7 linked regions of the Homo sapiens genome follow. The protein of the gene in region 2 purifies or fractionates together with the protein of the main gene of each other region. This does not show direct contact. Each region holds a gene or a part of one and is shown on either strand. Other genes may lie near its edges.

The links.
Region 1: the proteins of KCTD17 (region 2) and PTPN4 purify together in Homo sapiens (affinity purification with mass spectrometry; 3 studies listed by BioGRID and IntAct, with this or other methods). This does not show direct contact.
Region 3: the proteins of KCTD17 (region 2) and POLK purify together in Homo sapiens (affinity purification with mass spectrometry; 4 studies listed by BioGRID and IntAct, with this or other methods). This does not show direct contact.
Region 4: the proteins of KCTD17 (region 2) and PIP5K1A purify together in Homo sapiens (affinity purification with mass spectrometry; 4 studies listed by BioGRID and IntAct, with this or other methods). This does not show direct contact.
Region 5: the proteins of KCTD17 (region 2) and PPP1R9A purify together in Homo sapiens (affinity purification with mass spectrometry; 3 studies listed by BioGRID and IntAct, with this or other methods). This does not show direct contact.
Region 6: the proteins of KCTD17 (region 2) and ZMYND8 purify together in Homo sapiens (affinity purification with mass spectrometry; 3 studies listed by BioGRID and IntAct, with this or other methods). This does not show direct contact.
Region 7: the proteins of KCTD17 (region 2) and RECQL4 purify together in Homo sapiens (affinity purification with mass spectrometry; 3 studies listed by BioGRID and IntAct, with this or other methods). This does not show direct contact.

Annotation. Positions count from the first base shown.
Region 1 is NC_000002.12:119,762,627-119,766,884, forward strand, and holds part of PTPN4 (tyrosine-protein phosphatase non-receptor type 4), read left to right. Parts: intron 1-4,258. UniProt on the Homo sapiens protein: Phosphatase that plays a role in immunity, learning, synaptic plasticity or cell homeostasis. Regulates neuronal cell homeostasis by protecting neurons against apoptosis.
Region 2 is NC_000022.11:37,054,467-37,058,724, forward strand, and holds part of KCTD17 (BTB/POZ domain-containing protein KCTD17), read left to right. Parts: intron 1-1,853; coding exon 1,854-1,945; intron 1,946-2,931; coding exon 2,932-3,027; intron 3,028-4,258. UniProt on the Homo sapiens protein: Substrate-adapter for CUL3-RING ubiquitin ligase complexes which mediates the ubiquitination and subsequent proteasomal degradation of TCHP, a protein involved in ciliogenesis down-regulation.
Region 3 is NC_000005.10:75,591,566-75,595,823, forward strand, and holds part of POLK (DNA polymerase kappa), read left to right. Parts: intron 1-2,312; coding exon 2,313-2,484; intron 2,485-4,258. UniProt on the Homo sapiens protein: DNA polymerase specifically involved in DNA repair. Plays an important role in translesion synthesis, where the normal high-fidelity DNA polymerases cannot proceed and DNA synthesis stalls.
Region 4 is NC_000001.11:151,201,373-151,205,630, reverse strand, and holds part of PIP5K1A (phosphatidylinositol 4-phosphate 5-kinase type-1 alpha), read right to left. Parts: intron 1,826-4,258; exon of another isoform or gene 1-1,825. UniProt on the Homo sapiens protein: Catalyzes the phosphorylation of phosphatidylinositol 4-phosphate (PtdIns(4)P/PI4P) to form phosphatidylinositol 4,5-bisphosphate (PtdIns(4,5)P2/PIP2), a lipid second messenger that regulates several cellular processes such as signal transduction, vesicle trafficking, actin cytoskeleton dynamics, cell adhesion, and cell motility.
Region 5 is NC_000007.14:94,913,767-94,918,024, reverse strand, and holds part of PPP1R9A (neurabin-1), read right to left. Parts: intron 1-4,258. UniProt on the Homo sapiens protein: Binds to actin filaments (F-actin) and shows cross-linking activity. Binds along the sides of the F-actin. May be involved in neurite formation. Inhibits protein phosphatase 1-alpha activity.
Region 6 is NC_000020.11:47,240,982-47,245,239, reverse strand, and holds part of ZMYND8 (MYND-type zinc finger-containing chromatin reader ZMYND8), read left to right. Parts: intron 1-4,258. UniProt on the Homo sapiens protein: Chromatin reader that recognizes dual histone modifications such as histone H3.1 dimethylated at 'Lys-36' and histone H4 acetylated at 'Lys-16' (H3.1K36me2-H4K16ac) and histone H3 methylated at 'Lys-4' and histone H4 acetylated at 'Lys-14' (H3K4me1-H3K14ac).
Region 7 is NC_000008.11:144,514,931-144,519,614, forward strand, and holds the start of RECQL4 (ATP-dependent DNA helicase Q4), read right to left. Parts: upstream 2,904-4,684; 5' UTR 2,855-2,903; coding exon 2,771-2,854; exon of another isoform or gene 2,706-2,770; coding exon 2,672-2,705; intron 2,579-2,671; coding exon 2,484-2,578; intron 2,261-2,483; coding exon 2,120-2,260; intron 1,835-2,119; coding exon 1,058-1,834; intron 961-1,057; coding exon 834-960; intron 528-833; coding exon 396-527; intron 313-395; coding exon 220-312; intron 143-219; coding exon 6-142; intron 1-5. UniProt on the Homo sapiens protein: An ATP-dependent DNA helicase which unwinds dsDNA with a 3'-overhang in a 3'-5' direction. Does not unwind more than 18 bp of dsDNA. May modulate chromosome segregation. The N-terminal domain (residues 1-54) binds DNA Y-shaped DNA better than ss- or dsDNA.

The sequences.
Region 1 (4,258 bases), on a different chromosome or scaffold from region 2:
AAACAAGAAAAGTTTTCCAGAAACGTGGAAATCTTGTTTGGTGTATGTTTAGGGGCAAATGTTTTAAAGTTTTGCCTAAATTCTTAGTTAGAATGCAAAATTGATCAACTCCCTAGGAATGGTTATTGTGGCTAAATATGAATTGTTGCTCCTATGTAAAATTTAGTTATTGGTAGAAGTTTACTAACTGAGTTGAATTTTGTTGTTTTCCTGGGTTATTGCATGTTATGAAGTTTTTTATGTACTATAATCCAGATTTGTTAAATTTGCCAGTTTACTAGAATAAGCTGTGAAGCCTTGAAGTTTGGCTTAGCATTCTGAAAATCCTTTTTATTGTTTGCCAGGAAAGCACTGTAGGAAGGAGGTGTTATCTCTTCATTTAATATTTAATGAGTAGTATAGATGATGAGATAGGATATAATGTAGAAATACCGTAGAATCTTCTTTATTGATATGAAAGTACCATTGTCTAGGAACAGCATAATTTCTTATCTTTTGCATGAATGGGGAAAAAGAGGAGGGGAAATTTATTAGACTCTTTCATTTCATTAGAGATATCTTCCCTCACATTCATTCTTCATTTCATTATTCTTAAGTAGAAACTTTGGAAGAGAGATGCAAGTATTTGAATTAATTAGTAAGAACAAAATGAAAATTACATCGTATAGACTATCATGAGGAAAATATCAATTTGGGTTGGTTATTGTGTTTGTATTTTTTAACAAGGAGGTTATATAGAGTAGTAGAAAGAAAAAAGGACCCAGAGGGGAAGAGTGTTAATATTTATTGTCTGTTAAGTGTCAGATCCTGTATAAGGGGCTTTTCATGTTGTCCCACTCACCAAGTATGCTTTATGAGGTAGGTATTATTAATCCCCTGTCCTCTCCCTGCCAAATAGAAGCTAAGGGAAATGAAATAACTTGTCTAGGCTCATACTTCTAGTAAGTGGAATTCTCTAAAACTTATTCTTTAGATCGGTTCTGTCCAATTAAACTTTCTGCAATGATGGAAATATTCTTTTTTCCTTCAACTTTATTGAAGTATAATTGACAAATATCATAGAAATATTTTTTGCACTGTTAGTTATGGTAGCCATTAATCATGTGTGGCTATGGAGCACTTAAAATGTGACGAGTGTGTCTGAGAAACTCAATTTAAAATTGTATTTAATTTAAATCAATTTAAATTTATAGCCAGATGTGGCTAGTAGCTATAGTATTGGAGAGCATAGCTTTAGGTCTGACTGCTTAGAAAATCTGAGTTGTAGTATTTAATCTTCCACTGGTTTATGCATGGCATTGGGCAAGTTGTTTAGTTCTGGGCTTCAGTCTAATCTGGTGTGAAAATGAAGGGGTCGCCACTAAGAGATTATCTCCAAGGTTCCTTCTTGCCTGAAGTTCTGTGACTGTTATTAAAACATACAGTAGCATTCAATATTCACAAGCATTATGTCTGAAAGGATCCCCTCCCCAATATGCTCACCCATTACCTAAAGATTTCTGTTTAGTCAGTTTCTCTTTTTGAGAAGCGTATGTATAAAGCACACATAAAGGATAGTGGATTATTCCCCACCTCCCCAACTGTTCGGCAAAAACATTGTGTAACTCAAGGCAGTACTTTATGATGGAACAAAGTTTGAATCTTTAAAGGCCATATTTTAACATGCCACCTTCCCGTTTAAAAATATATAGGAGTTCCCCGGTGCTTATCAAATTAATCCCAAATTTACCTGCTTGACCTTGAAGACTTTCTACCAACTTCATCTCATTAACCTTGTTTCTCATTCGTGCTTAAAAAGAAAATAGTCTTGTTTTTTCCTTTGTCCTCGTTTCCATAATTTAAACATCTCTGTCTCCAATTCATGTGCCTCCTCTTTAAACCTTTTTCAAAATTCACCTGTTTCTGGAAGAATGCTGCTTAATCCACTCACAAGGATCAGTTAATGAATCCTGGTAATAAGTACCCTAAGGTTAATATATGCTTGTTTAGATATAGTTTAATATCTTCTTAAGCTTTTTTTTTTTCTTAAGTTTTTATGTTACCTACTCTGTTTCCTTAATTTTCTTAGGTTAAAAAAATTAAAATAGGAATAGCGTCTTTTGTATTGTCTTATGAATTTAGTTCATTTTTCAACAATGCTACTTTTAAAAGTTGCTAATTTTTAAAAAGGATAAATACTGTAACAACGTTTACCCTTGATCACCACCATAATAGCTATTTTTTGTTTCTTTCCAGGTAATTGTTCATATTTAAAAAATAAAGTTGTGTGGTAGAGAGAATTTTGAGAGGAATATAATGGGAACATTGTATGGTGGAGGCTGTGCAATGTAGGGGAAAGATCACAGACTTTGGAGTCAAATCTGGTGTGGAATCTAGCGTCAAAAACCTCGGGCAAACTGTCTGATTTCTGAGTCAGGAGTCAAATCTGGTGTGGAATCTAGCGTCAAAAGCCTTGGGCAAAGTGTCTCATTTCTGAGTCAGGTGGTCTTGAATTGTGGGGATTAAGATACTATATGTAAGGCATCTAGCGCTGTGCTTTAAATACAAGAGATGATCAGTCAGTGATAGTTGGTATTATTTTTTCATTTTTCTATTCCCATCTTCATGAATATTATTTATTTATTTTAGCTACCCAAAGCCACCAAGGTCAATGAATATAATTTAAGTGATTAGTTAAACATTCAGGTGATATACCATAACTGATTTAGACATTTACATTTTGTTAAGCGGTTTTTTGTTTATTTCCTCAGTTTAAAACCCTAGGACTGGGATAATGGTCAAGTGTCATGAATATTTCTGTGCCAGATCTCTCTCTTACAGAAGTACCTACAGTGGTTGTTCTTGTTTTGGGAAGAAAAAAATGCTAATTTTATAATTGTATTTCATTGTTTTAATTAATGTAATTTGAAAATTTATTTGGTGATGATGTAATGAACATTCCTTTATATGTTAAGCAAACATTTGAAATGCCCATTGTAGTGGGAGCAGTGGTATAAAGGTAAATAAGACATGATTCTTGTCCTTGAGCTCAAATTCTAGGGTGGTAACACATGTCAACAAACAATTAACAATTCATAGTGACAGTGTAATAAGATCTGGGGAAAAGAAGTGGCATTTGAATATGGTCTTGGAGGATCATTTGGAATTGATCTGGGTAGAGAGAACAGCATATAGAAAAAGTCAAAGTATGAAAGAATGTGTGGTGTGTTTGGAGAAATGTAAGTTGTCTTGTTGGATATGTCTGTCTCTGTCTGGGTGGGTGTGGTTGTCTGTTCCTGTGTGTGAATCTGTGTGTGTGTGTGTGTGTGCGCGCGCGCATGTGCGTTGATTGCAGTGGGAAATGAAGTCTTGTGAGGGTCCTTGTGTTTGGGCAATGAGTGGGATCATTTTAAGACCTTTAAAATAGAGCTTCCCAACTGGTGTGCCATGAATGGTTTACCAGTGTTTCGGAGAGCAAGATACCCTTGTTTAATGGGACCTGGGCATATCAGATCCCCCTCCCCACCCTGCCCCAGGATGGTTTCTTTTGGCTTTGAATAGCATTTGTGGCTTATCCCAACGTGCTAAGAAATTATTATTTTCTTTGTTGCCAAGTTGGGAAAAGGATTGGGAAAACCACTGTTTTAGAGACTGTAAGTATTAGAAAGTTTATGGTTCCTACTCACCCTTGGCATCCACTATGGAATCAGAAATAAATATCAAATCCTAAAGTAAGCTTAAGGTAAACTTAAGAATTCTTAAGTCACCTTCCTCTTTCTCTCTCTTTTTCCCTCCCTTTACCCGCTGCCTCCCCCATTTCACTGGTGTATGCGCATGTGCGCGCGTGTGTGTGTGTGTGTGTGTGTGTGTGTGTGTGTCTGTGTGTGTGTGTGTGTGTGTGTGTGAAATATCTCTTTGGTGCCCTTGCGTTACTGGTGCCCTAAACATGCATTTAGTCTGCCTCTTGGGAAATCAGCATTAACATTCAGGAACAATTTAGAGGTATTTAAATAAGGGATGATAAGATTAGATGCAGGTTTTGAAAGGTAACTCCTGACTTCTAGATAATGATGCAAAGTTACAAGGATAATGCAAGGATGAGGTTAGAAATGGAGCAGAGAGACCAGATGCTGTTGCAGTGGTCCAGGGGAGGGATGATAGGAACCAGAAATAGGGCAATATAGATATGAGATTAGAACTGAAAACTGAGTAGTTTCACTAGACCTGAGAGTCCATTTGGACATGGGGGGAAAGAGTTGAAGATGATGCTAGGATTTCT
Region 2 (4,258 bases):
GGGGATCACACAGGGCTATCCGGGGGCTAGGGGATCACGCAGGGCTATCCGGGGGCTAGGGGATACACAGGGCTAGGGCTCATCCAGGGGATAGGGGATCTGAGAGGAGACTTACTAGCTGTGTGACACTGAGAAAGTGACCTAACCCCTCTGTGTCTGCATGCCCCCATCTGTGAAATGGGGGACCATAGCACCCACCTCACCGAGCTGTCATGAGGATAAAAGGAGTTAATAGTGCAGCATGGAGCTCAGTTCCTGGCCGGAGGATGTGGGATGCAGTGCTAGCTGTCTGTCACCTGCAGGGCTCCGCCCAGGGCACTGGGGATAATTCTCGTAATCAGGCAGCTGCACTCCCTGACCTCCTGCTCTGTGTTTGGTCCTGTGTGGGCACCGGGGACAGAGGGCAGATCAGAAATGTGAGCCCCATCTTAGCCATTTCAGGCTGCAATCATGAAGTAACATAGATTGGGTGGCTTATGAAAATCAGAAATTTATTTCTCTTGGTCCTAGAGGCTAGAAACCCGAGATCGGGGCACTGTGGCAGGTTCTGGTGAGGACTTTCTTCCGGATTGCAGACTGCTGACTTCTCGTTGTGTCCTCACATGGCAGAAAGAGAGGGAGCTAGCCCTCGCCCGCCCCTTCTCGAGAGCTTGTTTGGAGGTTCTAGCAGGGGAGCGCAGCTACTCACATACCCTTGACCAAAGTCCGGTCCTCCTCTATCGGGGGTGGTCGCCCCCTTCGATGGAGCTCACAGCTTCGGGAGGGACACACCTGGAGCAGTGAGGGAGGAAGGGGACACACATCTAGCCAGCCAGATCAGCTAAATCAACCCTGGTGATCAGTGGAGTGACAGATGTCCCCGCCAGATCGCCCTCACATCCAATTAGCCTTTCTTATAAGAAGACTGATCCTACCCTGGGGACTCTACCCCCATGATCTCATTACCTCCCCTCCTAATCCCATCACAGTTTTCAGCAGGTGGATTTTTGGGGAACACACACATTCTGCTCATAATGAGCTCTGTCCCCAGGGAGCCCAGAGGCCAGTCAAGGAAAGGGCCCAAAGGTCCCCTGCCTTCTGGGAGCCTAGGGGAGTCGAAACAGCTGCAAGCTCATCGCTTCACTGGTGGGCTGACTTCTTCATCTCCCAGATTAACTTAACTGTAAGATGGGGACAGTAATGCCTGCTCTCCTCATATCCCTGGACTTGTGATGAGCTCGTGCAGGGTGTTGCAAACTGTAAGGTGAGGCAGTTGGGGGAATGCATGGACACAAGGGTATGTGCTTACAGTGGGGAGACATGGGCTCTGGAGTCTGCAGCGCTTGAGTTCCCTCTGGCACTTACCAGCTGTGTGACCTTGGACAAGCTGCTTCTCTTTGGGAGCCTCAGTTTTCCCAGTTGTTCAATGCAGATGATGAAAGTACCTCCTTCTAGTTCTGAGAATTCAAAAATGTAATGCACCTGGCACTTAGAATGTGCTTAATAAATAGGAGCACATAATCAGGGGTCAGGCAAGGCCCTGCTCATGGTGACATTCTGGGGATCAGTCCCAATGACCCTGCTGTCTCTTGATAGCCCTAAAGCTGCCCCAGACGGTGGCCTGGCAGGTACCCCTGGGTCACCGCACTCAGCACAGCAGAGCTGTGTGGCAGCCCCTCAGCCCCTTCCACAGGAAGTGTGGGATCCAAGGAAAGAAATGCTCCCTCTTACTTGACCCCTGAACTCACAGACACTCAGCTCACCCTCAGGGCGGGTGATCAGAGCGAGAGGTGGGTTTCGGGGTGGAGGGAACAAGAGGAGAATGGGGCATGGAGGCAGAAGGAGTGACCTGGGATCTGTTCTGTCTGTGCCAGGGGTCCTGGAGGAAGCCGAGTTCTACAACATCGGCCCGCTGATCCGCATCATCAAAGACCGGATGGAAGAGAAGGACTACACGGTCACCCAGGTCGGGAGCAGGGGCAGCACACACGGCCAGGGCAGGGGCCAGTGGGGAGAGAGAGGCTGAGAGACGGGGCGGGAAGCAGAGGAGGTTGGGAGAGACAGGACCAGTGTTTGTCATGGGGAGGCCGAGCTGGCCTGTAAGGAGAGGCATGGTTGGGCTGACAGGCTGCCCAGCACAGCCCCAGACTCGGAGACGGACACTGGGGTTCAGTCCCTGTCTCAGCCCCATTTGCTGTGTGTTGGGCCAGGCTCGCCCTCTCCGGACCTTGATTTTCTCTTATGGGATAGAGAGGGGTGGGAATGGCACACCCATCCCTTCCTCATAGGCAGAAGGGGGTCAGTGTGGAGGTACAGGGTGCCCTGCAGAGGAAAATGCAGGATTAGCAAATTGTGCCTTTTGTGGCATCAGATGGTCGCCTGGTGGGCTCGGCACAGGCTGTTGGGGCTGGCGTTTGTGACCTTGGAGCCTGGGCCTCCCTGGCCAGTCTGCAGGAGGAGGGAAAGAGATTTTCCGCCTACTCTGGGGGATGTGTGAGGGTTGGGGGACAGGTAGTGAGGAACCATTTCTCAGGCCCAGGGGATTAAAGAGGGGAGGCTCCGTGTCTCCTTGAGGGCCTGACTCCTTGAGGGTGACCCAGAATGTTCCCTAAGCCCCACCCATGTTCTTTCTTGAATTACCCGTGTTCCGGTTCTGTCTCCTTCACCCTTGAGCTGGGTGACCTTGGGCAAGTAACTGGACCTCTCTGAGCCTCAATGGAAAGTCCCGTAATGCCTAGGATTCTTGGAAGGATTAAGTGAGATGGTGCCTGGTAAATGCCTGGTGAGGAGCAGGTGCTCAGAGCATGGCTGCCTCCCCCCAACCACCTCTTCTTTCTCTCCCTCTCTTCTTCTTTGGGTATGTTGCGGGGGTGGTGGCAGCAGGTGCTCATGCCCCTCCTGGGGTGCCTGGTGCTCCCACAGGTGCCCTCTATGTGACCCTTCTGCCCACAGGTCCCACCCAAGCACGTGTACCGCGTGCTGCAGTGCCAGGAGGAGGAGCTCACGCAAATGGTCTCCACCATGTCTGATGGCTGGCGCTTCGAGCAGGTGCGCTGGGGACAGGGGCGTGCCACCAGGACAACCCTGGGACCTCCTAGCCTCTGACCAAGCAGGCCCCTCCCTTCCTGCAGCCCCAGCCTTGGGTTCCCCACCACAGTCTCCCCCAACCCCAGGGTTCTTCTGAAATCAAATTAAACAAGGTTAGGAGAGACCACACTTGGTGGCAGGTTGACCGAGAGAGAGGATAGGAGCCCCAGTGGCCATAGGACAGCACGGGGTGTCCTTGTTGGTGGGAGTCCTCACAGCAACTGGGTGGTGATCTATCTGGTGGCATGAGTGAGTCTGTGGCCCCCGAAGGACAGCTCAGGTGCAAGGAGACCAGATCCACATAGGTGAGTGGAGTCCACATTGAGTCAGTACCTCTTAGAACTCAGAGTCAGCATCATGCGATCATAGCAGTTCCTGACACAGTTTTCAGGGTCTCCGCAGGGGACATGCCCAGTGGCCAGCATTGCAACATGCAGGGGAGCCCAAAGCAGTGCCTTCCCATGAGGTCTTTATGGTGAACGGTGGTTCCTCCCAGTCCAGATGCAGTTTACCCATCGGGAGATCCTTATCCCGAGGGACTTTATCCCTAGTCATGCAGCTGACCTCCCACCTTTCAGGTTTCCAGAGGAGCAGAGCCAGAAAGTGAGCCCAGGGTCAAAAGTGCCTTTAGAGAAGGAGAGGGGGTTGGCTAGCCTTTCTCCACGCCCACCCACACGTTCCCTGGCACATGGAGACTGCAAGGCAGAAGGTCGGAGCCCCCAGGATGGCCTGGAGGGATGGAAGAATGGGCCTAGTGCAGAGCCAGAGGCCTGGCTTCACCTCTAGGCCTTGCCACAGACATGCCTGCCACCTTGGGCAAGTTACATCTCCTGTGCGGGACCCAGTTCCCTCATCGGTGAAGTGGGCTAACAGTACCTCCTCTGTAGGACTCTTGTGAGATTAGAAGGGCCATCAGTAAAGCTTACAGCCCTCCGTAGGACTCCCTATGTTGGCATTAGTGTCATGCAAATCATTAGAAATCCATATTGAAGTCTGCAACACTCAGAGAGGACTTGGGATCCCCGATGCCATTCCCTGCTCCACCCCTTCCTAGCTGTGAGGCCTTCAGCAGGCCTGAGATTCTCTTCAGGGTCCCTGAGAGCTGAATGAGACTCATCACCTGGAAGAACTTTCTTATTTCTTAGCCAGAAGGGCTCTGTGGGCGTGGTTATTCTAGGGACCCTGGAACAAG
Region 3 (4,258 bases), on a different chromosome or scaffold from region 2:
TACATTGTCAATTATTAACCCCAGACTTTATTTGGAGTTTACTTATTTTTCCATTAATGTCGTCTCTGCCTTCCAGAATTCAGTCCAGGGGACTACATTGCATTTAGCTGTCATGTCTCTCCAGTTTCCTGGTCTGTGATAGTTTCTTAGTTTTTCCTTCTTTTTCATGACCTTGACAGTGTTGGGTAGTACTATACAGGTATTCTGCAGAATGTCGCCCAATTTGGGTTTGTCTGATGATTTTCTCATGATTAGATCAGGGTTATGGATTTTTAGAAAGAGTATCACAAAGAGGAAGTGTCCTTCTCATAACATCCTATCATGGGGTGTATAATAGCCACATGATGTCATGGTTGATATTAACCTTCATCACTTGGTTAGTGTTTGCTAGGCTTCTCCACTGTGAAGTTAGTGTTTTTCCCTTTGGAAGTAAGTCAGTAAATCTAACTACCCTCAGATGAGAGAGAGCAGGAATTAACTTCCTCCTCCAGGGGATACTAAAATATACATAACATAAAATTTACATTTTAACCATTTTTAAGTGTACAGTTCATATTGTTTTATAACCATCACCACCACCCATCTCTAGAACTGTTTCATTGTCTCCACTGAAACCCTGCACTCATAAAACACTAAGTGTAAAGGGAATTCTTACATTAAATTGTTTGGCATAGCATCTGGCAATGCAGAAGGCACACAATAAGTGTGAACTATTCATAAGTCGTTTTCAGTGAGACACTTTTAGAAAGATTTTTTTCCTTCCTTTGTAGGTAATTAATCAACCTCCAAAAGAGATTCAGTAAAAATAAAAGTGATCATTTAACCTTTCCCTCTTGTAATGGTCTTTTATAAAAATTCAGTTGGGGGGCCAGGCACGGTGGCTCATTCCTGTAATCCCAGCTCTTTGGGAGGCCAAGGCAGGGGGATCACCTGAGGTCAGGAGTTTGAGACCAGCCTGGCCAACATGGTGAAACCCCATCACTACTAAAAATGGTGGCGGGCACCTGTAATCCCAGCTACTCTGGAGGCTGAGGCTGGAGAATCACTTGAACCTGGGAGGCAGAGGCTGCAGTGAGCCAAGATCCCGCCACTGCACTCCAGCCTGGGCATCAGAGTGAGACTCTGTCTAAAACAACAAAAAAAAAAACAAACAAAAAAATTCAGTTGGGAAGGGGAATAAAAATTACTGGCTAAAATGGGATTTTAGGTCAGGCATAGTGGCTCATGCCTGTAATCCCAGCACATTGGGAAGCTGAGGCCAGAGGATTGCTTGAGCCCAGGAGTTCAAGACCAGCCTGGACAACATAGCAAAATCACGTCTCTACAAAGAAAATGTAAAAATTAGCTGGGCATGGTGGCACGAGTGTGTAGTCCCAGCTACTTGGGAGGCTGAGGTAGGAGGATAGCATGAGCCTGGGAGGTCAAAGCTGCAGTGAGCCACGATCATGCCACTGTACTCCAGCCTGGGCAATAGAATGGGACCCCCATCTCAAAAACAAAATAAAATGGGATTTTAGCTTATGTTTGGAAAGGGAAGTAAACGTTTTTGGCTAAAATGGTATTTTAATTATTCTTTTTTTTTCTGAGACAGAGTCTTGCCCTGTCACACAGGCTGGAGTGCAATGGTGTGATCTCGGCTCAATGCAACCTCCATCTCCTGGCTTCAATCTATTCTCCTGCCTCAGCCTCCCCAGCCGCTGGGATTACAGGTGCCTGCCATCACGCTCAGCTAATTTTTGTATTTTTATTAGAGACAGGGTTTCACCATGTTGGCCAGGCTGGTCTTGAACTCCTGACCTCGTGATCCGCCCGCCCAAAATGCTGGGATTACAGGCGTGAGCCACTGCAGCCGGCCTCTTATTCTTTATGATATGTTTATCACCATGTTTTATAAATAATTGGTTATAATTCCATATTCTTATGTCCGTAAACCTTTCTGAATTTTTCTAACATGTAAATGACTTTTTTCTAGAAGTTAGGAAGTCATACAGAATAATGTATTCTGGTTGGGTGCAGTAGCTCATGCCTATAATCCCAACACTTTGGGAGGCCAGGATCGCTTGTGGCCAGGAATTTGAGACTAGCCTGGGTAACATAGTGAGACTCTGATTCTACAAAAAAATAAAAAATTAGCTGGTGTACTGGCACGCACTTGTAATCTTAGCTACTCAGGAGGCTGAGGCAAGAGGATTGCTTGAACCCAGAAGTTGAAGGCTGCAGTGAGCTACAGCTGTGCCAGCGCACTCCAGCATGGACAACAGAGAGAGACCCTGTCTCATAAATAAATAAATAACATATTGTATATGTTATAGGGTAGAACTGTTACCATTAAGTTGAAGAATGTGAATTTTGAAGTAAAAACTCGTGCATCTACAGTTTCATCTGTTGTTTCTACTGCAGAAGAAATATTTGCCATTGCTAAGGAATTGCTAAAAACAGAAATTGATGCTGATTTTCCACATCCCTTGAGATTAAGGCTTATGGGTATGACTTTTTCATTTTTTTGTTTTTCCTTAAATCTGCTAGATTTTCCCAAATAATCAACTTTGGGAATACAGGGGGCCCCCAACTTAACAATGGTTCAACTTAATGATTTTTCAACTTTGCGACAGTGGGAAAGCTGTATGCTTTCAGTACACTCTTGACTTACAAGGTGGTTACATCCCGATAAACCCATCATAAATTGAAAGTATTGTAAATTGACTTATTATGTTTTCAATTTACAGCGGGTTTATCTGGATACAATCCTACTGTAACTCAATGAGCACCTGTATTCTCGCCTTCATTTTATTTCTTAAACCTGTTTACGAAGTTCTTCCTTTGCTGCTGCCATTTGTCTTAGTTATTAGACCCTGATGTGTGAAGCCATGATCATTAGTTTAATTCCAGTAAGGGTCAATTAAAGTTGTTATTTTCCTTATAACTTAATGAAATTCTTGTGGCCAGGTGTGTTTCAAAATTCAAAACTTTTCAGATTTTAGAAAGCAAATTCAGTGCATGTAGAGTATATTACGTTGTAATACTTCTTTGTGGATCTGGGGCAACACCCCCTGTTCAAACACATTAATATTTCTGTAGCAAAACAAAATATTCAGAGACTGTAAAGACTGATGACATTAATTTAGTCATCAGGTATCACTTGTTGCTTACAATTTTCAGAACTTTTTGGATTTTGGAATTACAGATAAAGGATTGTGACATTGTGAAATCACATCTCCAGCCACTACATGGTAAAAAGTAACAAGCCATGTTTCCAAAGTGTACTGGTTGAAAGTATATATGTGGATCACCACTCCAAATGCACATTTTACTAGTAAGGAGTGGGTCACTAGCCATAATTTTATTTATGAAAGATATAGCACACACTGAAATCAACTGAATAAAGTGTTAATTGAAAGAGCCAGGCTGGGCGCGGTGGCTCACGCCTGTAATCTCAACACTTTGGGAGGCCAAGGCAGGTGGATTGCCTGAGGTCAGGAGTTCAAGACCAGCCTGGCCAACATAGTGAAACTGCATCTCTACAAAAACTACAAAAAATTAGCTGGACATGGTGGCGGGCACCTGTAATCCCAGCTACTTGAGAGGCTGAGGCAGGAGAATCGCTTGAACCCGGGAAGTTGCAGTGAGCTGAGATCACGCTGTTGCACTCCAGCCTGGGCAACAAGAGTGAAACTCCACCTCAGAAAAAAAAAAAAAAAAAAAAAAAAAGCCCAAGAGCAGATATCTATAGAAGCTTAATTCATAATTGCCAAAACTTTGAAGCAAGCACGATGTCCTTCGGTACGTGAATGGATAAATAAACTGTGGTACATACAGACAGTGGAATAATATTCAGCACAGAAAATAAATGAATTATCAATTCATGAAAAGACACGAATGAAACTTAACTGCATAATGTTAAGTAAAAGAAGCCAGTCTGAAAAAGCTAAATACTGTGTGATTCCAACCATATGAGATTCTGGAAAAGGCAAATATGAGTACCATAAAAAATAATTGATTGTCAGGAGTTAAGAGGGGCAGGAGGTATAAATAGGCAAAACACAGGAATTTTAGGGCAATGAAATGATTCCGTATGATTCTATAATGACACGTCATTATAAATTTGTCCAGCGCCCAGGATGTATTCCAAGGGTGAACCCTATGTAAGCTATGGACTTTGAGTGACAATGTTGTGGCAGTGTAGGTTTATAGATTGTAACAAATGTACCACTCTAGTGCCACATGTTGATAGTTGGGGTGGTGGAGGGGTGTGCATGTG
Region 4 (4,258 bases), on a different chromosome or scaffold from region 2:
AGACAGGGTTTCGCCAGGCTGGTCTGGAACTCCTGACCTCAGGTGATCCACCTGCCTTGGCCTCCCAAAGTGCTGGCATTACAGGCGTGAGTCACCATGCCCGGCTCTTGTTCCCTTCTTTACGTCAAGTAAGAATGCTCCAAAATTCTAGGAGAGAGGCCGGGCAGTAGCTCACGCCTGTAATCTCAGAACTTTGGGAAGCCAAGGCAGGAGGATCGCTTGAGGCCAGGAGTTCAAGGCCAGCCTGGCCAACATGGGGAAACCCCGCCTCTACTAAAAATACAAAAATTATCTGGGCGTGGTGGCGCACGCCTGTGATCCTAGTGACCTAGGAGGCTGAGGCAGGAGAATCGCTTGAACCTGGGAGGCAAGGGCTGCAGTGAGCCAAGATCGCACCACTGCACTACACTGGTCTGTAGCCTGGGCGACAGAGCAAGACTCTGTCTCAAAAAAATAATAAATAACATTCTAGGAGAGAACAATTTAAAGGATAAAATTACCACCTTCCCTCTCCCCAGTTTGCTAGCTGGCCTGGTATTATCTCTGTTGTTCACTTCACAGGCTATAGTTTCCACTTTATTATCCAAGAAAAACAGGCTAATAAAATATTTAATAGCTATTAGGTAGCACATATTTGAGCAAAGGTATTAATCAGAAGAGTTTTAAATTAACCTAAAAAAGCCCACAGACATTAATAAGCAAAACGTACTATTTTGATATTCAACGCTAACGTGTAAGTACACATTATCAATTAATATCAGAAACTGGATACCTATTAGACTAGTTAATTATAACTGACAATGGGCTTGAGTGTCATGGCAGAAATAAATCGATCAGAAGCAATGACATTCTGATGTCAGTTTTCTGGCAGAATATACCAAGGTGACAAAAGGAAAAAGGGGTGGGTGGAAAGTGTCAAAATCCCTATGGAGAGTAAACAGAAAAATATCTCCCTATTTATAAAATATCAACCAAAATGGCACCTGGTGATATTCTGACATTGTATTCTATGTTTGCATTTCTAAATTTCAGTTTATCATTCAACATGATCTAAACTGCTTTACTTTTCACTAAGAGGAAGAACTAGGAAAGAAATCAGCCTACAAATGGCTTACACTGTACACAACAGAACACAGATCAAAAAAACATCCACAGGCCGGGCGTGGCGGCTCACGCCTGTAATACCAGCACTTTGGGAGGCTGAAGTGGGCAGATCACCTGAGATCAGGAGTTTGAGACTAGCCTGGCCAACATGGCGAAACCCCGTCTCTACTAAAAATACAAAAATTAGCCGGGCGTGTTGGCGGGTGCCTGTAATCCCACCTACTCAGGAGGCAGAGGCAGGAGAATCACTCAAACCCCAGAGGCAGAGGTTACAGTGAGCCGAGATCGCGCCATTGCACTCCAACCAGGGCAACAAGAGCGAAACTCCATCTCAAAAAAATATATATATATATCAACAATAATCCCTACTACTGGAGTTAACAGATTACTGCAGGTTACAGGTAGGGCTCTGCTGGGAAGAACAAAGCAATCAGAATCACAGACTGATGAAGCTGTCCCTACTATAAAAGTCCCAAGCAAAAATGCTCCAATACTGTATCCTCTGGATCTCCCTGAGCCGTTAAGGGGGAGAAAAAGTCAGGTAAGCAGCTGTAAAGTTATGTCTAAATCATTTGTGCACATGATAAAATCATATAGGTGAGCGATGACCATTTTAAAAATGTTCTAGTCTGAAGCAAAAGGAACTACACAGCTCATGATTATCTAGGGTTTAAGTGCTTTTCTTTTTTCTTTTTTTTTTTTTTGAGACAGAGTCTCACTCTGTCTCCAGGATGGAGTACAGTGGCGTGATCTCAGCTCACTGCAACCCGCGCCTCCTGGGTTCCAGCAATTCTCCTGCCTCAGCCTTCCGAGTAGCTGGGACTACAGGAGTGTGCCACCATGACTAGCTAATTTTTGTATTTTTAGTAGAGACGGGGTTTCACCACGTTGGTTAGGATGGTCTCCATCTCTTGAGCTTGTGATCCGCCCACCTCGGCCTCCCAAAGTGCTGGGATTACAGGCGTGAGCTACTGCTCCTGGCCTTTTTTTTTTTTTTGAGATGGAGTTTCACTCTTGTCCCCCAGGCTGGAATGCAATGGTGTGATCTTGACTCATTGCAACCTCTGTCCCCCGGGTTCAAGCAATTCTCCTGCCTCAGCCTCCTGAGTAGCTGGGATTACAGGTGCCTGCCACCACACCCGGCTAATTTTTGTATTTTTAGCAGAGACAGGGTTTCACCATGTTGGCCAGGCTGGTCTCAAACTCCTGACCTCAGGTGATCCGCCTGCCTTGGCCTCCCAAAGTGCTGAGAATATAGGTGTGAGCCATTGTACCCAGCCTCAAGTGCTTTTCCTTGAGGAAGTCACACATGATTTTACTCCACAACTCTTATTTCATAGGAGCAGTGTACACCTTAGTATCCTATCCCTTCTAACCCAACCACTAACTTCAAATCAAGCCTCCAAGACAGAAATTCTTTACTCTCCTCATGGTGGTAAAAAGGGCATAAAGTAAGGCCAGCGGCGGCGGCTAAAGCCTGTATGTACCTCAGCACTTTGCAAGGCTGAGGCGAGAGGATCACCTGAGGTCAGGAGTTTGAGACCAGCCTGACTAACATGGTGAAATCTGATCTCTACTAAAATACAAAAATTAGCCAGACGTGGCAGGTGCCTGTAATCTCAGTTACTTGGGAAGCTGAAGCAGGAGAATCGCTTGAACTCTAGAGGCTGAGGCTGCAGTGAGCCAAGATTGCTCCACCGCACTCCAGCCTGGGCGACAGAGAGAGACTCCCTCTCAAAAAAAAAAAAAGACTTTACTGGCAGGGCATGGTGGCTCACGCCTGTAATCCCAGCACTATGGGAGCCCGAGATGGGTGGATCACCTGAGGTCAGGAGTTTGAGACCAGCCTGGCCAACATGGTGAAACCCTGTCTCTACTAAAATACAAAAATTAGTCAGATGTGGTGGCAGGTGCCTGTAATCTGTTACTTGGGAGGCTGAGCAGGCAACTCGCTTGAACCCGGGAGGCTGAGGCTGCAATGAGCCAAGATCACCCCACTGCACTCCAGCCTGGGTGACAAGAGCAAGAGTCCACCTAAAAAAAGAGAAAAAAGATTTTATTTGCGATTGGAAGAGAGTGTTTCTTTGTCTGCATGGTACCAGAGGAATTAGGAAGTTGGCAGGAACAAGTGATGGTTTATGATTTCCTGAATTGTTAAAGGCTAGAAGGCTGGCCCTGTAGAAATTCAAGAAGTGTGCGTGTCAACCACCCTAAAACCATTTACTGTTCTTAGCTGTTTAGCTGAACTCCACTTAAGTTTTGGTGAAACTCTGAAATCCTAAAGGACAATGTTCTCTGACAATGCTGAAAATGGATATAAAACAAAAATGTCATAGCCAAGGACATATTGACAGTTTTTGATAAGCCACTCACAACTTCTAGGCACTCCCAATCTTCTGGCATTTAAATTGGGAAGGAGAGGTTATTTAGGAGAGTTTGTTCCCTGCCAATATTAAAGATAGTTTCACCATTAAGCTGTCAGCTTTTACACTGTTGACAAGTGAAATACACAGAGTAAAGCAAACCATAAGCTCTAAGAGATGTTTAACTACTTTTGCTATTGGAGCAATTACCATGTTTGGATTTGGTGGAGGCCATTATAATCTTTCCATAGTCCATCAAGAGCTTGAAATTTAGCCACTTTTTGCCCCCTTTTTTTTGTTTTGAGACAGAGTCTTGCTCTGTCACCCAGACTGGAGTGCAGTGGTGTGATCTCGGCTCACTGCAACCTCTGCCTCCCGGGTTCAAGCAATTCTCCTGACTCAGCCTCCTAAGTAGCTGGGATTACAGGCCTGCGCCAACATGCCTGGCTAATTTTTTTGTATTTTTTAGTAGAGATGGGGTTTCACCATGTTGGCCAGGCTGGTCTCGAACTCCTGACCTTGCGATATGCCTGTAATCCCAGCATTTTTGGAGGCCGAAGTGGGCGGATTACTTGAGGTCAGGAGTTCAAGACTAGTCTGGCTGACATGATGAAACCCCATCACTACTAAAAACACAAAAAAATAAAATAGCCAGGCATGATGGCACATGCCTGTATTCCCAGCTACTTGGGAGACTGAGTCAGGAGACTCATTCGAAGCTGGGAGGCAGAGGTTGCAGTAAGCCAAGATGGCACCACTGCACTCCAGCCTGGGTGACAGAATGATACTCT
Region 5 (4,258 bases), on a different chromosome or scaffold from region 2:
AGTAATGTTTGTTTTGTTTATACAGAATTTATCCCACATCTAACTATATTTCTCTATGAAAATTCCTAAACTTGTTTTCAAGTGGTAGAGAAAGTGTTAGAAAAAAATCTAATGCAGATGAGATTTCAATCAAATTACTTGTAATGGGCATATTAACTGGGTTAACAAGGTAAACGACACATGGATAACATAACACAAAGTGATTTTCCTCCAAATTTGGCATCTTATCTTTCAAGTACATGAACCCAACAATTAGTGTCATTTGTGAGAAAGTTTAGAGGGAACACAAAGTATGTATGATCCAAAAAGCAAGCAACTGCTGGGCACAGTGGCTCATGCCTTTAATCTCAGCACTTCGGGAGGCCAAGGCAGGAGGGTCGCTTGAACCCAGGAGTTCAAGACAAGCCTAGACAACATAGTGAGACTTCATCTCTACAAAAAAAAAAAAAATAATAACAGGCATGGTGGCGCTTGCCTGTAGTCCTAGCTGCATGGGAGGCTGAGGCAGGAGAATTACTTGTGCCCCAGAGGTCAGGGCTGCAGTGAGCCATGACTGCATCACTGCACTACAGCCAGGGTGACAGAGCAAGACCTTGTCTCAAAAAAAATTAATTAAATTAACAAAAAACAAGAAACTTTAAATATTTCTATTACAAATAAATACCAGTAAACATCTGAAATAATCTGCTGTCAAAAGAATCCCTTTTTAAACACTAAATGATCACTGTTCAGTTTAAAAGTATAGCTATACCTCTGGATTTTAGAAAAGGGGTTCATTCAACAAATCTTCATTATTTGATTTTACAAAGTATATTAAAATATTTGACATATTTCATTTACCTGGTTATGAAGCATAGGTCATAAAACATAAAAATTTAAAAGGAAATCCAATTTAAATGTTATACCATCGGCTGGGCACAGTGGTTCACGCCTATAATCTCAGCACTTTGGGAGGCCAACGCGGTCAGATCACTTGAGGTCAGGAGTTCGAGACTAGCCTGGCCAACATGGTAAAAACCCTGTCTCTACTAAAAATATAAAAATTAGTCTGGAATAGTTGTGCATGCCTGTTGTCCCAGCTACTCAGAGGGCTGAGGCCTGAGAATCTCTTGAACCCAGGAGGTGGAGGTTTCAGTGAGCTGAGATCGTGCCACTGCACTCCAACCTGGGTGACAGAGCAAAGCTCCCTCTCAAAAAACAAAAAACAAAAAACAAACAAAAAAAAAGTTGTACCATCAAAGTTATCCAAGAAAAGCAAGTTAAATCATATGACCATTCTTATACTAAGTTTATTAATTTACACTTGCAAAAGAATGAAAGAAATGAAATTTCTGATTCCATTAAAAACTTCTTCCTCCCAACTTTTTATAACTAAAAACTTAAACCACACAAAGAGCCTAGGATGTGACTTTTTAATGACCCAAATGCCTTGAGTTAAGGATAATAATCCACTTTGGGATCCAGAAACAGAGTATTCATGCACTTTACAAGATTATACCTTATTTCATCTTCAGAGAATATTATTCCACCCAACCAGATATAGCAGCCCATCTGGAAAGGAAATTTATTACATGTTGCTTCCCTAACATGCTATGGCCAGCCACTTTCAGAAGCCAGAAGATTGTACTTCAAATTCATATTCCAAAGAGTGATCTCTTGATCAGCGGCATCGGCACCACTTGAGAGCTTGTTAGAAATGTAAAATCTAAGGTTCCCCTCCAGACATACTGTTAACGTGGTTTTCCTGTATTATTTCAGAATATGAAATTCTATTATAGAGGTAAACAAAACTAATGGGATGGATGAAACACTTAAGAAGTGATAATCATAGATGGTAAATAAACTAACAACTTATGAGACAGAGGCAACACTCAGGCTGGGCCAAGTATTGATAATGAGAATGCAAGCTGGTGAAATGAAGGCAGTCAGCAGATGCGTAATAAATAGGTAAGCTGGGAGTAAGACATGACAACAATAAAATAAATAGAAATTATGATAAAATGAATGAGATTTACTTATAGACAAAAAGCAGTGGAAATACCAAGTCACCATTATGCCTGGACTGATAGCTACATTACTTCCATATCAGTCATCTACTGAAGACACCAAGGATGGTCCCATGGCTCATCAGCAGGCAAACTAGCAAAGCTACGGCTGTACCTAAGTGTATTTGTCACATCTCTTCAACAGAACAAGTGTGTATCATCGACCCAGGAAATCATTAGTCTATGGAGTCTTGGCTCAAACATCAGCTCTGGTCCTCATAACCACATCATTAATGGGGAAGGGTTATGTGAAAGAAAGATGGGACATAGGAACATTGTTTATCCAGGACAGGTAGCGTGGTCCTTCCAACCTGGTTTGAACCTGAAGTGTGTTAACTTACTCCATAGCTTTCCTCTTGCTTCTGGATTTGTGTTTAACTGGTTTGGTAAATCATGTGATTCAAGCATTTTAATTTGTTTTCTGAGTCTTCTATTCCATAACCTCTGAGATAGCTTGCCTGCTGGTGTACTTGTAGCTCAACCATTGTATCAAGGTAATTTCCCATAGAATACCTACTGAATCAGAATCTTGATGCTAACAAGATCTCCCAAGTGATTCATATGCATATTAAAGTTTAAGAAGCACTGACAAAACTGTTATAAAGGAAGCCTCCGCAAAGACAAAAAGTTGGATCTCAACAGAACTATTCCCTGAAAACCATCCTGAACAAAAAAACTTCATATATCCATGAATGCCCTAACTATGACTCGGAGCCCCCAAAAAGGGAGAGAATACAAGAAGATCCATTTTCAACAACTATCATGTAAGGTTTGAAGAAGCTCTGGTGCCCTTGCTGATTATTTGAATTCTAATCCTGTAAAGCTCCATATGATTTGAGAAAACACAAAATATAGCACAATGTACCTCAATATTAACTCTGCAATATCCTTCTTACTGTGAGTTAGAAAAATCTTTTTCAGATATGCTGTTTCAAGAATAACAATCCATTGTAACACAATAGTATTTGAGGGGAAAAAAAAATACCAATCCAAAGGACATAAGAAACAGAGAAAGGTTGTGACTTCCTTAATGAGGCTGCAGCAACCTTAGAAAGATCATCAAAGCACAGAGTTGGGAACAGCCTGAGAGCTTCCTTAATGGGCTGTACACGTCCCACCGACCAGCAGCTCCTTACTTCATCAGCTCCTCATTTTATGTATTTGTTGTATTTGTTATATTTGCATTGTCCCTGACACATATTAGGGGCTCCATAAATGTTCTGAATTAGTAGAAAAAAATGACATGTCACCCTCTCTTGTTTTGATTCATCTAAGACAAATTTACTTTAATTCAATCCTTTCATTTTGAAAAATTCCTGAAAATGAAGGCATAATTCCATCTCGAATTAGCATGGTCCATAACATTCTCCCATGCCATATCTCAAAGTTGGATTTTAATTTGCTATTATTAATCCCATTCTAATATTTCATGACCCTATGAAACATAACAATCTATCTAATAAGAAATAACTGTCTGTGAAAGATAGGAAAGTCATACTAACTGATGGCTGGCAATACAGTCTGACCATTTTTAAAAATCAAGGTATATGTACAAGTACAAGGTATATGCTACACAGGAAAGATCAACTATTATTCTGATGTTTTTCTAAGTCCAGATTTAAGACATCTTATGGAAATATCTATGTAAAACATCTATAAAAAGAACTGAAGTAGTCACTGAGGACAATATTACACATACAAAGATGATAAATAAGATCTATAACAAAAAACTAAAGGTGCTAGGAATTTTTAACCTAGTACAGAATAAAGTGACAGCCAGGAAAAGAATGTAAAAGTTCTAAAAATCATTTATTTAAAGAATACATTCCCTGTTGCTTCTTTAAGAGGAAGTATGTTTAAGCTTCAAAGGAAAAGACTGAGGTTAGGAATTGCAACTTCCCATTCCATAAATAAAGTTTTATGAAAAGAATAAAGAAACACAGATAGAAAATGGTTGCATGTATTCCTTTCCAAATAATCTATCAAATCCCTTTCACTATATGCATTTAGTACAACCAAGTGCCACTAAAGGACTCACAGGACATTAAAAATTTTGGCATAGTTTTTTATACTGTTTTTTATGGATTTTAAATACAATGTGTTTAAGAATTGACTCTACAAACTCACAGAGGAAAGGGGTAACCTTACAGATTTTTGTGTCTTCTTCAGCTAACAGCATGAGAGAACACACATGATAAGCCTTCAATAAATAC
Region 6 (4,258 bases), on a different chromosome or scaffold from region 2:
AAGGTTTTGATGATTTCAGCTTTGCTTTCCTCCCCTCATGCCACCTAGGCATCTCCAAGTGTATTTTCTTACAGTAGTAGGACAGTATTTGGGTGATTGGTGCCAGAATACTGAGTGCTTCTTAGGGCACTAGAAAATGGAGTATGGTGGATATGTGTATTGGCTTTTTTGGGGAGGGGGGGCGGACAGAATTTGGCTCTTGTCGCCCAGGCTGGAGTACAATGGTACAATCTCGGCTGACTGCAACCTCCGCCTCCCGGGTTCAAGTGATTCTCCTCCCTCAGCCTCCCAAGTAACTGGGATTACAGGCACCTGCCACCACGCCTGGCTAATTTTTGTATTTTTAGTAGAAACAGGGTTTCACCATGTTGGCCAGGCTGGTCTCAAACTCCTGACCTCAGGTGAGCCACCCAGCTCGGCCTCCTAAAGTGCTGGGATTACAGGCATGAGCTACTGCGTCTGGCCTTACTGGCTTTTAATCTTATTTGCATTTAACTTAGCTCAGAGTTTCACAACCTTGCACTTCTGACAGTTTGCCCTGGCTAATTCTTAGTCCTGTGTATTGGAGGATGTTTTCCAGCATCCCTGGCCTCTACCAGCCAGATGGCAACCTTACTTGCTCAGTTGTGGCAGTCACAAATGTGGCAATCAAATATTGCCAAATATCCCCTGAGTCTCAGAGGCTACGGTTATATTCTGAACCAGCAGTGACTACCCCACAGCCTAGTGCAGCCTGGGCATGTTAACAAGCCCAACAAAAGGGGTGTGGGAATGATTGGAAGGATGTCCTTCCCACTGACAAAGTATTCAGCACATTTTTGAGTTGGCTTGGCAATTAGGTTAGAGGATTCAACATGCTCAATAAAGATACTGAAGAATTAACTAAGGGCCCAGAAGAAACATTGCCCCAGGACAAATTACAGGTTGTAGCCATAAAACCTTATGTATGTGGCGAGTGACTTAAGGGATAGCCAGGTTTAAATCTTGACTGTGCCTAACTTCTATCAGGAGCTAACTTGTCAATGAAACCCTTGAATAAGATGTAACTCCATGTCCTTTGGGGTTTCCATTGTCTGGTGGCTTAAAGCAAGTCAGGGATGGGCCTTGAGAATCTTTCTGCTGTGGTTATGGTCAACCTGGGCTGCTCTGGAACCTCAGCTGTCAGAGTGAGAGAGGATTCCTGCAGTTCAGCTAAAGAGAATGTCTGTGAGAGGTACAGTGGAGGAAGAGAGAGATACAGTTACATAAGGGAGGGAGGATAGGCCATCAAACCATCCCGACCCATCTGTTAGATTTATAGATGGCCTCTGAAAAATATGAGTATGTTATGGATTGGGTTTTGAGAGACTGTCTCTGTTGTTGCAGAGAACAATAGGAGTAGCATTTATTTCATGAGGATCGTAGGAATATTTGGGTGCAGATGGCAGTGCTCCTATGAGTGACATATTTATACTGTTCTTTCTTTCTGGAACAGATCTTTTGATTGATTGGTTTTGTGCCCCTACCTCTTCCAGAAAGAATTTGCAACAGATTGACAAGGATACATAACCATATGAAACAAGATGAAAATAAAGACATCCATGTAAAAGGAAAATGAAGGTAGAATAGCAAGTGGTCTGGGGAAAGGTTTTATACAGAAATCTGTACTATTTCAATCTTCAGAGTTAGGGAAGTTGGCTCTGAAAGCAGAATGGGAAACACAGTACCTTAGAAGATCTCATACTTTCCAAAAAAACAAAAAACCATTCTAGTTGATTAAAAGAAGTAGAACTTTTCCTCACATTGATGTCTGAAGGGAATTTCTCCAGGAAGCTTTAGTAGATGGTGGACAATTAAGCTGAAGATGATTCTAAAACACAGTTCAGTTAGAGCAGCTTCCTAAGGCTTGGGGCAAAACCAATTGATCTTAAATTCAGAGCTGATGGTGGTTTGGGTCTTGAAAAATTCTCGTGTCAGACTCCGCTAGAGAGCATCTTTTCAATGATGTGTTTTCACTTAAGAGTTTAGTAAGTGAAGGGCATTTTGGATTGCGCTGTTGTGACCTCCAGCTTACCTTCCACTAGGGATGCAGCTTATGGGTAGAATATGAATCTTCAGATGGCAAAACAGCTTTTATAGCTAATAACCTCAGAACAGAAGCAAAGAGAGCACACTTAGACTCTTCGCTGTGCTTTCACTGGCACATCAGTAATTTCCATCCTTCTACAAAGGGGATGCTAATTTTTCTCTTAAAAAGTCCTTGCTTTATAAATGAAAAACAGTGACCAGTGACAAATTCAGGAATTAAGTAGGTTAATTTGATAGGGCAGCTTCTCAGGTGCTGACCCTTTAAAAAAAAATTCACCCTTTTTTTCCCGCTACAGGTGATTGATTATGTACTCCAGATTTCTGGGACAAATGAAATTTCCTGTAGCCTCATTTTGTCTCCATAAACCATCAGGATTCCTGGAAATTTAAATATTTTGATATCTAAATAACTTCAAACAATTTTGAGCCTGGAATCTTATCGGATTGTATACTCTAGTTCTTTATTTGGCAGAGAGCCAGCTGTGATCACTGCAGAGCAGTAACCCCTCCGCCCTGCTGGCTGTTTGCTTTTGCAAATCAGGAGAGAGAAAACGACCATTTTGCGGTTGCCCTTACGGTGGGGAGACAGGCTAGCTCATCAACAATAACAGTATATTTTTTGGTAATGTGGCAGGAAAGGAAGGCATTGAAGGCACTTACGTGGGTTAGAAGCTCTGCTAAGGCACTGCCCCCTGCCCTCCTCTTAGAAGGGCCCAGTTCAACACCTCATCTCCACCTGGAAGAGGCGGGGACTGTGCCCCATATCTGGCAGGTGGCCCTGGAAGCATCGGAGTTCTTCACTGCAGGAAGCTCTCCTTCCAGACCCACCCCAGGCTCTTGCTGACCAGCTTGGCTGGATTCTCCTCTCTGGGGAAGTACAAGGGCCAGCAACATCTCGATAACCATCGAGAACGCCCTCTGAAGTCGGGATAGTCAGCTTGTCTCTTTCCCTCCTTGGCTTCTTAAAACCCACAGCTTACTGAATGAAAATCCTTGCTGGAGTAATCAGGCTCATGTCTTTTTCTGGGTAATACTGATCTTAAAAAGACAGACATAGGCCGGGCGCAGCGGCTCACGCCTGTAATCCCAGCACTTTGGGAGGCCGAGGCGGGTGGATCACAAGGTCAGGAGATTGAGACCATCCTGGCTAACACAGTGAAACCCCGCCTCTACTGAGAATACAAAAAATGAGCTGGGCATGGTGGCGGGCACCTGTAGTCCCAGCTACTCGGGAGGCTAAGGCAGGAGAATGGTGTGAACCCAGGAGGCGGAGCTTGCAGTGAGCCGAGATCGCGCCACTGCACTCCAGCCTGGGTGACAGAGCAAGACTCCATCTCAAAAAAAAAAAAAAAAGAAAAGAAAAAGAGGCAGACATAATCCTTATTTAAAGGAGTTTGATGTCAGGGAGCATAGTCCAAGATCGGGGTGCTGGCTTGTACCTGGGTGTGGTGTGTGTTCCCCAGATATCCTCTCTGGGGCATAGGCTCACCTTACCGGGGGCTGAGGCCTGTGCATCCATAACTGAGCCACCTTTACAAATGAGCTCCCGTGTGGTCATCGCCTCTACGTGCTGCTCAGTGCTTCTGGCTCTAACCTCCCTTCCAGCCCCTCCTCCCTGCCTGCCCTCACTTACTCAAATGCTCTGTATTCCTAGACATATCTTGGCTGATGCTGTTCCCTCCAGATTCTCACTTTCCGCCTGTTGAAATCCTACCCTTTATTCCCCACCAGCCCAGCTCCTCCAAGATGACATACTCCATATGGCAGCGTTTTTCAAACTTGAGTCATTCACATTCATTGTCTTTCCCGTTCTCAAGTCCTGCTTGTATAATTTTTGACTTTTTTTATTTAAAGAATCTTTTTTTTTTTTTTTTTTTTGAGACGGAGTCTCGCCCTGTCACCCAGGCTGGAGTGCAATGGGGCGATTTCGGCTCACTGCAACCTCTGCCTCATGGGTTCAAGCGATTCTCCTGCCTCAGCCTCCCAAGTAGCTGGGATTATAGGCACACACCACCATGCCCGGCTAATTTTTTGTATCTTTAGTAGAGATGGGGTTTCACCATGTTGGCCAGACTGGTTTCGAACTCCTGACTTCGTGATCTGCCCGCCTCGGCCTCCCAAAGTGCTGGGATTACAGGCGTGAGCCACTGCACCCGGCCAAGAATCTCATTCTTTAAAAATAAAATTAAGC
Region 7 (4,684 bases), on a different chromosome or scaffold from region 2:
CACACCTGGTCATCCATGAGTGACAGCAGGGGAGAGACGACCAACGTGAGGCAGGGGCTGCGCCGGCTGTAGAGCAGCGCTGGGAGCTGGTAGCACAGGGACTTGCCGGCACCTGTAGGCAGCACCAGCAGCGTGGAGATGCCTGGATGGGGCGGGAGTCAGCAGCAGGGTTCTGCAGCCTGGCCTCAGCCCAGCCTCAGCCCTGGCAGCCACGCTCACCAGACAGGATCCGCATGACTGCACGCTCCTGCCCAGGGCGAAAGGCTTGGTGCCCCAGCTGCTCCAGGGCCTGGAACACCTCAGCCGGCGTCTCTGCAGACACAGATGTTGATCACCATGACTTGAGTCACCCCAACCCCTCAGTGAAGGCTCTGGGCCAGAAGCTGACTGCTCACCTGCCAACTGCCCTGAGGGCCCCAGGGAGTAGAGTGGCAGCACGGTGGGGTCCAGGCTGGGCACCTCAGGTACAGGTTGTGGTGAAGGAACCAGTGGCTCAGGCCCAACAGCATCTGTGTCTTCCTCACTTGCTGGGGCAGGCAGGAGAGGGTAGAATGGGAGCTCCAGGTCGGGCAAGACAACCACTGGCCACAACCTCTCCTTCCCCCAAAGGGGGTTGGCAGCAGGCAGTGCCCTTCCTCTGGGCTACTTTTTCCAAAGCAGAAAAGAGTGACAGCCATCGTCGTCCCTGCCACCCTCCTTCAGGGGAGCTAGGGTAGGGCCTGGACCAGGGGTACCTGGAAGGCCTGTTGCTTGGAACATAAGTGTCCCCCAAAAGAGCACTGCGCCCTCTCCACAGTGTTGGCCGGACCCACCCTCCAGGGCAGATGTCTCACCTGGCCGGGGACACTGGGCTGCCCAGTGATCGAACTGCTCGTTCAGGAAACAAGACTCCTTGGTTGTGACTGTGGCACCACCACCCCCAAAACACTCCCCTTTCTTCCGCCACTTCTGCTTCCATGCCTGGGGGGTGCCCACATAGGAGGGTCACTGGGCGGGAAATACGGGAGGGCTGAGGGGAGGGAAAGGGAATGCCTGTCCTGGCCCGTCGCTGTCTTACCTGCTTGCGGAGGAGCCTGCTACGGAGTGCCCGGCCCCGCACGTAGTGTTTCTGCTTCATGTTGAGCCGTACGTAATTGCCCCTGTCATGGCGGGCCAGCCGAGGGAAGATGTGCAGGGGGGCTGTGCCCTCAGCCTTCCCAGCCCTAGCTTGACTGGAGGGGCTGAGTCCGTGGTACCTGGGGTTCGATGGGCTGCTGCAGGGCTGAGGTGGCTGTGCCTGTACAGGTTCCCCTGGAGGGTCTTCCTCAACTGCTACAGCCCCAGCCCCCTCCGATGGGGGTCCAGCTTGGCTGCTCTCCTGCTGGACCTGTGCGGGGCTCTCCCAGGGCTCCTCGTTCCATCTCCGCTTCTCGCCTCCACTGCTGCTGGGCTGGGGGCTCCCCACACGGATGCTGACTTCTTGGAAGGCTGAAGCCTCTGGGCCCTGGGAGCCAGCACCAGGACCAAGGACAGCCGACTCACCAGGGATCAGAAGTTGTGATTCCTCTGAGCCTAGATCAGGCCTGCAGGCTTTGGGGGCCCCCAGAAAATCTGGGACCTCACTGTGACATCGCTGTAACCAGCCAGGATCTAGGGAGCCCAGCCGCTGGCTCAGGGATGCCTGCAGATGCTGGAGCCGGCCTGGCCTTGGCTGGGGCTCAGGGAGCTGTGGAGGCTCATCACTGACTTTTTCTGCAAAGGAGGGGACAGGCCCTGTACCTGGGGGCTTTGGGGTGGATGCCTTAGATGAGGCTCTTCCTAGAGGCCACGGTCTGCGGCCCAGGGCTGGTCCGGCCTGGGAGGGGAACAACAGAACAGCAGGAGGAACTCAGGCCCCTGAGCTACTGTAGACTCTAAAACCTACCTGAGTCCCCACGCTCAATTGTAGAGCAGGCTAATTAGCACAAGGCTGGACTAGAAAGGGAGTCAAGGGCGAAGGCCCCGAGAAGCTCCCTGAAGACTCGTGCCCTGGTTGGCACAGGGGCCCGTGCCTGTCTGTGTGGAAAAAATGACAAGAGGGCGACCCGGACCGGAAGCAGCTGTGGACCTAGCGTGGACTCACTGCCTGCCCACTCCTCACCTGCAGGGTGCCTTTCAGATTGGCCTTGAGCCGCTGCCCGTAGTCCGGCACCGAGCCCTGGCGGCTCCGCCCTGGCGTAGACTGTGGACTCTTGGTCGCAGCCCGATTCAGATGGGGCCCCCAGCAGCGGGGCTCTGGCGCCTGCAGGAGACAACAGGGGCACAGGCCAGAAAAGGCTGTTGTGGCGGCAGAAGCGCTCCCAGCCACCCCTCCCGCACCTGGAGCGAGGCCCGGCCCTTCTTCACTTTGCCCAGTCCCCCTCCCAAGTTCTGTGCCCCACGGCGGCCTGGCCGCGACTCCGTGGCTCCCGCCACTCCGCCAAACAGGGAAGTGGGAGGAGGCTGGGGCGGCGGGGCCTGGGTACCTCTTCGGCCGCCGCGGGGAGCGACTCGGAGCTGCGGAGCCCGCCGCCGGCCTGGCCCGTGGTACGCTTCAGAGTGCGGTATTCCCGGTAGAGCGCTGCGTGGGCGAGCGGGAGGCGGGGTCAGGGTGGGGCCTGGGCCCCTGCCGACCCGGTGTCTTCTCGCCCCCGCCGCCCCGCCGCGCGCTCACCGCGGGTCTCCTCCGGCGCCGCCTCCACGTCGTCCTGTAAAGGGAACGCGTCAGCCGCGGGCCGCGCCCTCAGCCCCTCGGCCCCTGGGCAGCCCGCACCTGGCTCGGTCGCCGCCCGCGCTGCCGTCGGAACGCGCGCTCCCACGCCTGCAGCCGCTCCCGCACGTCCCGCAGCCGCTCCATGGCGCGCGCGCCCGCCCGGCCTCCGCGCTTGCGATCGTCCAGCGAATCTCCCGCGCAGCCGTCGCGGGGGCCGACAGCCAATGCGGATGCGCGGCGGGCCGGGGGCGGGGCCACCGCCCCTGGGCAGCCAGTCCGTCGGGCCTCGGACAAGCAGCCAATGGGAGGCGTCAACGTCATCGCGGGGCGCCGCGGCGCCGGGCGGGGAGCGGCGGACGGTCTAGGCGGGGCTGGAGGCGGTGGCTGCGGTTGCGGGACCGGTGAGCGCGGGCGGCCGGGGGGGTGTCTGAGCGGGGCGGCGCACGCCCCTGGCCCTGCCTGGCCTCAAGGGGCGGGGCACCGGTCGCTCGGGGCGGCCTGGCCGAGGGAGGCAGTGGCTGCATTTGGGAGCCCGGGGCCGAGGCCGGGAGCCTGGGAGGTGCCACCGCGGGCCGGGAAGGACTGGGAGTCCCCGGGCCGGTCGGAGCGGCGTCAGGCCCTGGTGGGAGACGCATCCGACCTGGAGGAGCAGGCCCCGCTCGGGAGGCGAAAGAGCGGAGGGTCCAGCGCCTCCCGCGGCTCGAGGCCCGGAGGAGCCGGGCGGGGGCGTCTTCGCGAAACGCAGGCGACCGAGGACCGTCGCGTTCCCTGCGGCCGGCGGGAGGGGAGGGGGCGTCGCACGGAGGTGCCTGCCTCCCTTGGTGGGCAGGCCGTCTGCTTTGGTGTTCTCCCGTGACAAGTGCTCGGTTGGTCTGTCCTGTCAGAGCGAGTATGATCGTTGAGATCTGTCCACCGGCAGAACTAGGCCGAGGGTTGGTGTCTGGGACTTTTCAGGAACCGGTGCCTTAAGGACTTACTTGTATGTGGAAAAGTCGACAAAAAGAAGGGCCTTGGGGCCAGAGTGTCTTCCCCGGCCCCCTTCCCTGGCTTGTCACTCAGGCTGTGACCTTGGGCCAGGCCGAGGCCTTCATTTTCTAATCTGTCACAGGGAGATGGCTGCGATTTAGTTTTGAGGATGCTACAGGCAGCAGCAGGGCTGGCACCCTGTGTCACAGGTACCTTGTGGCCTTGGGAGTGTTTGTGCATCTCTGCAGCTTGGGTGCTGCTGAGGCAGCTTTCTTTGCCTTGTCTGAGCAGTCTGTAGCTTTGCACCTTCTGAATCCCACATACTTAAGACTTGGTCTTTCCACAGTGGCTCTCCAGGGAAGAGGGAGAGGTTTAGGCCAGTGGTAAGGGCCAACAAAGGTGAGGGTTGCTTTCTTTCGGGGTCTCCGTGCTTGGTGACGCTCTGGAGAATAGTAGCTTTTGCGGGGGCTTGTATTTTATAGGCTACATCATCTGGACTCGGTGTTCCCTGGGTCTCGGTCTTTTCAACCTGCCTTGTTGCTTATGAAGCTGCTTCTGTGCTTCCAGCTCTTTGGTGTTTTGTGGAGTCCAAGTGTAGCCCTGGAGAGCATCTGTGAGGAGAGGGGAGGGAAAGGTGATTTGGCTGCTTGACTCCTTAGAGTGTCCCGTCAATACTAATGCTGATGAAGGTTGGTGGGGAGAGTCCTGGGCTTTATTCAGGTTTCGAAGAAGGTTTTGTGAAGCAGCTTTGTAATTTGAGAGGCCTGAAGTACCCATGGGGGGCCCTGCAAGGCAACAGGCATCTGTCAAAAGCATACCCAAGCAAGCGAGTTGTTGACGATGCCACACTGCTTGACGCTTAGTTTCTCTAAAGAGATCCTGTGCATCTGGAGGGCTGGGGCTGAGTTGTGAGTTTGTCTGCCAGTTCACTGCACCCAGCCCAGCGCTAGGCATCTAATAGGTGCTTCTCTGTGCCATGGCCACTGCTAACTGCTGACTTTGTTTCAG